Linked DNA regions of Homo sapiens: region 2 is linked to region 1. The links come from fine-mapping of genetic effects on gene expression. A gene starts in region 1. The other region holds a variant in brackets. All regions are shown on one strand. Distances are from middle to middle.

What was found. PIP is the estimated chance that this variant, and not a neighbour inherited with it, causes the effect.
Region 2: its variant is the best candidate, but not a certain one, in a credible set for the expression of HEATR1 in whole blood (TOPMed, PIP 0.52).

The regions. Positions count from the first base shown.
Region 1 is chr1:236,602,345-236,606,738 of GRCh38, forward strand. HEATR1 (HEAT repeat containing 1) reads right to left here and starts at 2,172. Exons shown (of 45, transcript NM_018072.6): 1 at 2,078-2,172; 2 at 1,610-1,783; 3 at 816-1,032. The coding sequence starts at 1,751. RefSeq lists an enhancer at 2,113-2,372.
Region 2 is chr1:236,624,479-236,628,872 of GRCh38, forward strand. No RefSeq gene overlaps it. Among named protein-coding and RNA genes, the nearest start is that of HEATR1, 22 kb to the left of the region's middle. The variant G/A (reference allele first, on the strand shown) is at 2,082.

The DNA.
Region 1 (4,394 bases):
TCAGTTTTCTCAACTGTAAAACAAGGATAATACAAATAATCTCACCAGAGGAATGCTGTGAGAATTAAATGAGATAATGCAGATAAAGTGCTTACCAGGGCCTAGTGTATAAATGCTCAAAAACACATTAGCTATCATTGTTTTTCTCAAGCAATGGTATTTCAGAGGATAACATTGCCTGCTTCCCCAACCATCTTGTTATTTTGCCAAGAAAGCAGCTTAGTACTCACTGCCTCAAGTGTGCAGGAACAAGCTGTAATGGCAAAGTAGCATGGGCTCTTCAGAACTAACGAGGTTAGGCTGGGCGAGGTGGCTCACACCTGTAATCCCAGTATTTTGGGAGGCCGAGGCGGGTGGATCACCTGAGGTCAGGGGTTAAAGACCAGCCTGGCTAACACGGTGAAACTCCATCTCTACAAAAACACAAAACTCATCCAGGCATTATGGCAGGTGCCTGTAATCCCAGCTACTTGGGAGGCTGAGGTGGGAGAATCACTTGAACCTGGGAGGCAGAGGTTGCAGTGAGCCAAGATTTCAATATTGCACTCCAGCCTGAGTGCCCAGCAAGACTCTATCTCAAAAAAAAACTAATGAGGTTAGACCATTTACTCAAAATCACCAGTAGTTCTACTTTTCACTATCAACAAAAAAGAATTTAAAGGCAGAAGAGCATGCTTATCTCACACAATGGACATTGTATCAATCTCTTAATATACCTAATTTTTCAGCTTTAATTTGATAAGTTCTCAACTACTTAATTTTTTACAAGACCAAAGTGATTAACCCATAGTTATTTCTGTAATTCTATTAGCTACCTGTGAATCAACCACTCCAGACACTTCTGTGCTGGCTTAAGCAGGAAGTAAGGCGACAAGTGAATAAGGAATAATGAAATGTTTTCATCCAACTGTTTGTTTACTGCTTTGGTCTGAACACTTCGCTCCAAGGTTTTTGCTAGCTGACTGAACAACGGTGCTTCAAACTGCTCAAAGGAAGGATCAATTCCAAGCAACTCTTCCAGGCCAGTACATCCTAAATTTCAAAAAAGGCCAGTTTATTTAACAATTCTTCGTAAGCAAATTCATCCCACCCCTCTTTTACAGTTTTACTTACCCCTAAGAAGTTTCTGAATTCTTTAAGTACATATAATTTATAATACAGTCCCAAACACTGATTTCTAGTTTTCAACTTTTAGAGTAAATCCTATCTCATCTACTAGAACAGAAAGTACTTCGTGGCAGGGAACACTTTTTTTTTTTTTTTTTTGGATATCCCCTACAATAACTAGGCCAGTCCTCTGAGAGGACTTCTCCGTCACCCCAGTCACTGCCTCCATCCCCCTTTTAGCTGTTCTTCTCTTTGACATATTAGTTGACCTCTCTAATTTTGTTTCTTCATCTGTGAAATCCAGATACCTCTACTCATAAACATTTCAAGCACCAAGCACCTGACTGTTATGTTCTCTTTCCCTTAAAAATATACATCAACATGCTAGAAACTGCTAAGGAAGAGGACGGGACAGAAGAGAAAACAAGGGGAAAAAAAAAAAACAGTAACATCCAGAAAACAAACGCTTCCAAGAGCTTTTCTAAGTTAAAAGATGGCTCACCAATGGCGAAGGCGGTGTCCCTGTCGATTGTGGCCGCTTCCTTAGGGTCAAATAACAAAGAAGCAACTTCATCTCTAGATAAGAGGCTGGCATCACTTTGAGGGAGGGCGAGTCGTTGCAGCTGCTGGGCTAAGGACGTCATCTTTCACGCCAGCGGAGTTTTAATGACACGGGCTAAAAAAACGTAAGCACTTTGATAAGTTTCTACGAAATTATAAGGCGCCTCGTAAACAAACAATTCTCTTCTGCACTCAGCACCGTCATGGACACACAACGCGGGTGTCCTGAGATTTGTGGACCCCGGAGATGCAAAGACGATGGCAGCAGCGTTAACAACTAATTACAGTAGCGGCGACCGCGCCAAGGCTTTCCTTCAACCCTGATTCCGCAGATATCCGGAAAACTCTTACCCTCCCTCGATATGCCGCCCCCATCCGCAGCCACATCAAGCGGCTCTGTGCCGCTTACCTGGAACTGGGAATTTGGGTATATCTTGGAAGGCAACAACTCTTCACAGCGCTTCCCACATGGTACCAAGGAGCCCAACCCTCACCCGGAAACCTAAGGCATGCTGTAGAGCAACTTCCTGCTGCAGGCGCTACGGCAAGTGAAGAGGTTCAAGCTTGCCGGGAATGCGACGAGACAGCTCCGCCTCCCGAGACGAAAGCCCGCCCCTCAGCCCGCCGGACTCAGGCTCAAGTCTGAGCTTCGCCTCTGTAGCTCCGGTTTAGCGGTCTGCTCTGCGGCTTGTGTCTGAAGCTTTCGGTCTCTGGATGGGCCTTCTGTGGGCTTTAAGGATCCGTAGCCAGAATCATTCATTCAGTAGTGATCCAGCCTTTACTAGGTGCCAGCAGCACCGCGTAGTGTTGAAAGCTATGGGTTGTGAAGTCACGTGGTTTGGGTTCAAATCCTGGCGCTGGCGCCTGTCGGCCGGGTTAACGCCACCAAATTATTTCATCTCTCCGAGCTTGTTACTCACTCTACAAAGTGGGAAGAGGCCGAGATTGTCGTGAAAGGAGCTTCTGCTCCTAGTGCAAACCGATCTATAAATGCTGGACTCCACCGCCCCAGAGCTTGGGGGAGATCTTGTCACTCCTCTATGTTTCCATTCCCGAGGGGTAAATGGCATATATTTTTTTCTTTCAAAACGAATCATAGTCAGGCGCGGCCTGTAATCCGAGCACTTTGGGAAGCTCAGGCGAGCTGATCACCTGAGGTCAGGAGTTCGGGACCAGCCTGGCCAACATAGCGAAACCCCGTCTCTACTAAAAATAAAAGAATTAGCCGGACGTGGTGGCGGGCGCCTGTAATCCCAGCTACTAGGAAAGCTGAGACAGAAGAATCGCTGGAACCCGGGAGTCGGAGGTTGCAGTGGGCCAAGATTGCACCACTGCACTCCACAGAGCGAGACTGTCTCAATAAATAAATTAATCGAATCCTGTTGAGGTATAATTTACAAACAATGGTTACACCCACGTCAGTGGAAGAGTTTGATGACTTTTAGCAAATGCATGTATAGGTGTAATGACCTCCCCAGTCAAAATGACAGTTTCCATCGCCCCTAAAAATTGTCTCTTGCCTGTTTGCGAAGATTCCCGCAACCACTGGTCTTGGCCTCACTACAGATAGTGTTGCGGAAGAGTATCCTTATGTATGAATATAGCTAATCTGTTTCCAAAACACCGGTATGCGCTAGAACTAGGATGAACTGACGTCTTCCAGACGAAGGAGTGAGATCTGATGCTCTGTCTTTTCTGGATGCATTAATTTCTCTGAAGAGCTCTGCGGGGCCAGGGGGTCAAGTCTTTCTGTAACCGTCTTCCCTGGAGAATGTCAGAAACACAGCTACAAATTTGGAGGCCCTGGTTGTCTATACCTCATGCAGATTCTCTCCCATTTACAAACAGAATCTTTTGTTGTTGGTTTGCTTTAAAAGCATTTAAAACAACCAAATATTTTCTTCAGTTATTAGTATTTCTACTGACTGTTAATAATCTTCTTTTCATGTGGTGTTGAGTGCCTTGCAGAGAATAACATGAAAATTCTAGTAGTACCTATTTCATTCTTACAAACATATCTCTCAAAGGAATTTTTTTTTTCTTTCTAACATGTCACAGGAGTTTTACCTTTACAGAAGCAATCAGCTTTCGGTACTTTAAAAGAAATGAACACCAGGTCTGTTTCATTGATAAGATAATTTGCTTTTTTTGCTTAAAAAATACCCTATATATTTTTTAAAAGCTTTATTTAAGTGAAACTTGAAAAAGTGCTACAAAGATTTGACTCAGTCCTTCCTATGTCAGCTGTGATGGTGTATAGTGCCATGCCGAATTTTACTTTGGAAAGTAAAAAGGAAAACAAGTCAGATGTTCATAAATGTAATTTTTTTTTAAAAAAAAGCTTTGGTTTTAAAAAAAATGTAATAATCTTGAATTATATATTTTTATCTGACGGACAGATGTACCAAGCTGGTATTTTCTTCATAGCCATTATCACTACTTGAAATGACCTGATTTGTCTGTTTGTTTACCTGTTTATTTCTTGTATTCCCTCACTATAATATTGGCTTCAGCACGTTGGCATAAAGCCCATCCCTAAGACTTATGGAGCCTGAGAAAGAGTACAGATGGACTCACTGCTGTAGGTGTAAATATTTAAAAGTTATAAATTAACTTAACACATTATTAACTAGGATATGCTATAACTCTCAATATTGGTGAGTAAACATTTATAATGGCAAAATAAAAATGTTTTTACATAGATGAAAATCAGCAAAATCTGATTG
Region 2 (4,394 bases), 22 kb after region 1:
TGGATGCATGCGCTTTTGCTTGATAGTGAATTTAGCTAATTCTGTATTTATGAACTGGCATACTTTTGTGGATCTTGATTTCTTTTTCCCCCAACTTCTAGTTTTATAGACTCACAGATGGAGAGGAACCAGATCTAAAGAGCCTCACCTGCACCTGGATCTTATTTAGATTTTGAAATTCTGAATTCAAGCACACATTGCAGTGGGATGAGACTCTTAGGAACCTTAAGAGGGGTGAATATATTTTCATGTGGGAGAGGCATGAATCACTGGGAATCAGGGCAGACTGTGGCATATTGATTCTAAAAATGACCTCCGTAATCCCTGCCTCCTGGATTTAATCCCTTCCCTTGAGTGTAGGTGGGACCTGCGACTTGATTCAATCCACAGAATACAGCCTGCATGACAGAATATGTGTGATTACATGTAAGTGATTACATTACATATGATTGTAACATCAATCTTTCCAGGAGACTCTACTTTGCTGGCTTTGAGAAAACAAATGATTCTGGAAAGATTAATATGGCAAGGACCTAAGGAACTCCTTCAGCTAATACCCAGCAAGAAACAGAGGCCTTTAGTCCAATGGTCCACAAAGAAACAAATGCTACTAACAACCACATGAGCTCGGAAGCAGATCCTTCCCCAGTCGAGTCTCAGAAAAGCCTGCAGCCCAGATGACATCTTGATCACAATTTTGTGAGGCCCTAAGACAGAGGACTCAGTCTAGTTGTGTCTGGAATCCTGAACCTCAGAAACTGTGAAATAATAAGTTTATGTTGTTTTAAGCCAGCAAGTTTGTGATAATATTGTTACACAGCAAAAGAAAAAACTAATATAAAGTTTAACAATGCCTCGAGTGTTTACTGATCCTGTGACAAGGAAAGTAAGAAGAAACAGAACAGAAGACTTTGTCCATGATCCTTACTGGAATTGTTAACTTGCCTGCTTCTACACTGCCAACCACAGGAGTAGAGACAGCTTTAGCTTTCATTACATGAAAAGTACTGCCAACTTGGGTAATTCAATATAAGACCAGAGCCTTCAGGGAGCCAACAAAGAAAAATACATCTTATTTAAGGAGAACGACCAGTCAAAAAGAAGAATATAAGTCAAAACTAACAGAACATTTATTAATCAGGATAGAGTAGCTGAAAAAGATAGACAACATCTTGAATTGTAAAAAATAGTAAAAGTGAGCTAGGCATGGTGGCTTTTGCCTGTAATCAGCTACTTGGGGGCTGAGGTGGGAGGATCACTAGAGGCCAGGAGTTCAAGACCAGCCTGGACAACATAGAAAGACCCAGTCTCTGCAAAAATTTTTAAAAATTAGCCAGACGTGGTGGAGTGTGCCTGTGGTTCTAGCTACTCAGGAGGCTAAGGCAGGAGGATCCCTGGAGCTCAAGAGTTCGAAGCTGCAGTAAGCTATAATCACACTACTGTACTCCAGCCTGGGTGAGTGAGCAAACCCCAACTCTTAAAAAAAATAGTCAAAGAAGCCTCACTTTTAGTAATGGTGCAATAGCTTGATTGAACTTACTCTCTTGCAGATAAAAAATAGTAAAATCTTCACAAAATATAAAAAACTTAAGGTACTAAAGAATGACCCAAAGCAGTCAAACAGCGGTGAGAAGTGACCCTTGCACCAGTAAAGATCTTTTATTGTGATCTCAGATTTTTTTCTCATTTATTAATTCACTGCAAGAAGCCAGCTAGTCTCTGCTAAACCTCTAGGACTGGAGTTTGTTCATTCCCTCCCATGTCCTGGCCTTCCTTGAATCTTCTTTTCCTTATGGACCTAGGATCTCTATGTTCCTGCTTCATTGGCCAAATCCCTGGCCCTAGTAACATGGCCCTTGCCCCGACTGTGGTTGTTTTTTTCTTTTTTTCTTTTTTTTTTAAACTTAATGGTAATTTTATTTTCCTAACAGCTTTATTGAGATGTGATTCACATATGAAAATCATACATATTTGAGATGTACAGCTTGATGTTTTGGTATTGCAGCATGCTGTTCTTAACAACTCAAATGACAGCCATCTTTCTTTTCTACACATATGGCAACTTGGCCTCTGAGATCCAC[G/A]ATACCAAATTAGCACAGCTGACATGTATATCTGACAAATGACTGATATGCAGAATATTTAAGGAACTGCTTCAAATCAAAAAGAAAAGATAGACATTCAATAGAAAAAAATGGGCAAAAGACTTGAACAAGCACTTTTAAAAAGACAATATCTGAATGTGTTTAATAAACATGTAAGTATGTTCTCTGCATCATATTGAAGGTCAATGACCTATAAGACCTTACCTCTTTTATACCTCTTTGACTTCTTCCCCTATTGCTTTCTGCTCTTCTTATAACAGCTATAACTATAATTCCATCTACATCTCTTGGATGCTTGCTGATTTTCTTTTTCTTTCTTTCCTTTTTTTTTTGAGATGGAGTCTCACTCTGTTGCCTAGGCTAGAGTGCAGTAGTGCAATCTCGGTTCACTGCAACCTCTGCCTCCCGGATTCAACACCTCATACCTCATTCTCATACCTCATGCCACCTGATTCTCATACCTCAGCCACCTGAGTAGCTGGGATTACTGGTGTGTGCCACCACACCCAGCAAATTTTTTTCATATTTTTAGTAGAGACGGGGTTTCACCATGTTGGCCAGGCTGGTCTCGAACTCCTGACCTCAAGTGATCCACCTGCCTTAGCCTCTCAAAGTTCTGGGATTACAGGCATGAGCCACTGTGCCTGGTTCTGCTTGCTGTTTTTCCAAACACTAGACATGTTTTCACCTCAGGGCCTTTGAATTCACTGTTCCTTCTGTCTTCGATGCTCTTCCCTGAGATAATGTCATAGCTATCTCCTTTTTTCAAGTCTTTGCTCAAACATCACCTTTTTGGTGAACTCTTACCTGGAAGTCCCTCTAAAATTACTAACAACCCATTACCACCATCGGACACTCCTATATCCCTTCCCTTAGCACTCATTACCTAACATACTAACTGTGTTATTTATTTAGCTTGTTTACTACCTGTTTCTCCATCTAAAATGAGTGCCATGTGTGCATAGATTGGTGTCTGGGTTTTTTCCTTTTTGTTACTTCTGCAATATTTAGAACAGTGACTGACACATATCAGGCACTCAATAATTATTTGCTGAATTTCTCAATGTCTCGATTTGGCATAAGGATTTCATTTTCCCATGGTATATTTTCTTCTGTGGATTGATGGGCTAGTACTAATTTGCACGGGTGTCTTGGTGATTCACAATCATGATTTTAATGTCCCAGTCCCCTTTGGCTACAGGAGGTACTTGATCCTAGGTGACTAAGGCAGAAATAAATAGAATGTGTAGGACTCCTCTGGTGTAAAAAGTCATGGGTTCCAAAAGTTCATTTATAAGTCAATTGTTTGGACATCCTGAACTTATTTTCAGAACACGATTGGGCACAGCTAGTTAACTGCAGGGAGGCCTGAGGAGACTGGAAGGTGCCAGAACCTGGAACCAGATCTGCCCACTAGGACAGGACCAGCCCTGGAAGGACAGGAGCAGGTGCACTGGATTCTAAAGGTGTTCAGTGCAGCCGGCAGGGGACATTGCCCTGAAGGCAAGATTACAGGCAGCAGTCAGCATTAGAGAGGGCCCAGAGGAAATGGGGAGACCCTATTGGGAAGCAGAGTCTAGCAACTGGCAATGTAGGAGTAGTGATGGGCTGTTTACCAAAAACATCATTAGTGCAATAGTAACTGCAAAACAGAGAAAATATTTGTAATTCATATGTATCTGACAAATGACTCATATGCAGAATATTTAAGGAACTGCTTCAAATCAAAAAGAAAAAATAGACATTCAATAGAAAAAAATAACAAAAGACTTGAACAAGCACTTTTAAAGAGACAATATCTGAATGTGTCTAATAAACATATAAGTATGTTCTCCACAGCATTTGTAACCAGTCAAATGAAAGCCACAGTGAGATTTCACTACACACCCACCAGAATGGCTAATATTAAAAAGACAGGCAATACCAAATGTTGGTAAAGATGTGGAACAACTGACATTTTGTTATACTGCTGGTGGAAGTACAAATTGGTACAAATATTCTGTAAAATTATTGTTTTCTCATTACTGAAACTCTCAGGTATGCTATATACTCAACAGAAATGTTGAGAAATGTGTGCGTACGAACACCGAAAGGCATGTTTGAGAATGTCCATAGCAGCATATTTTGTAATAGCATAATCTGCTTCCGATGCAGATGTTTATCAACAGAAGAATAAACATATACATTGTGAAACTGTCATACAGTGGAATACTATTCAGCAATGAGAACAAACAAACCATTGCAACGCACAGCAATATGACAGACTCTTACAAGCCTAATATCAAGCAATAG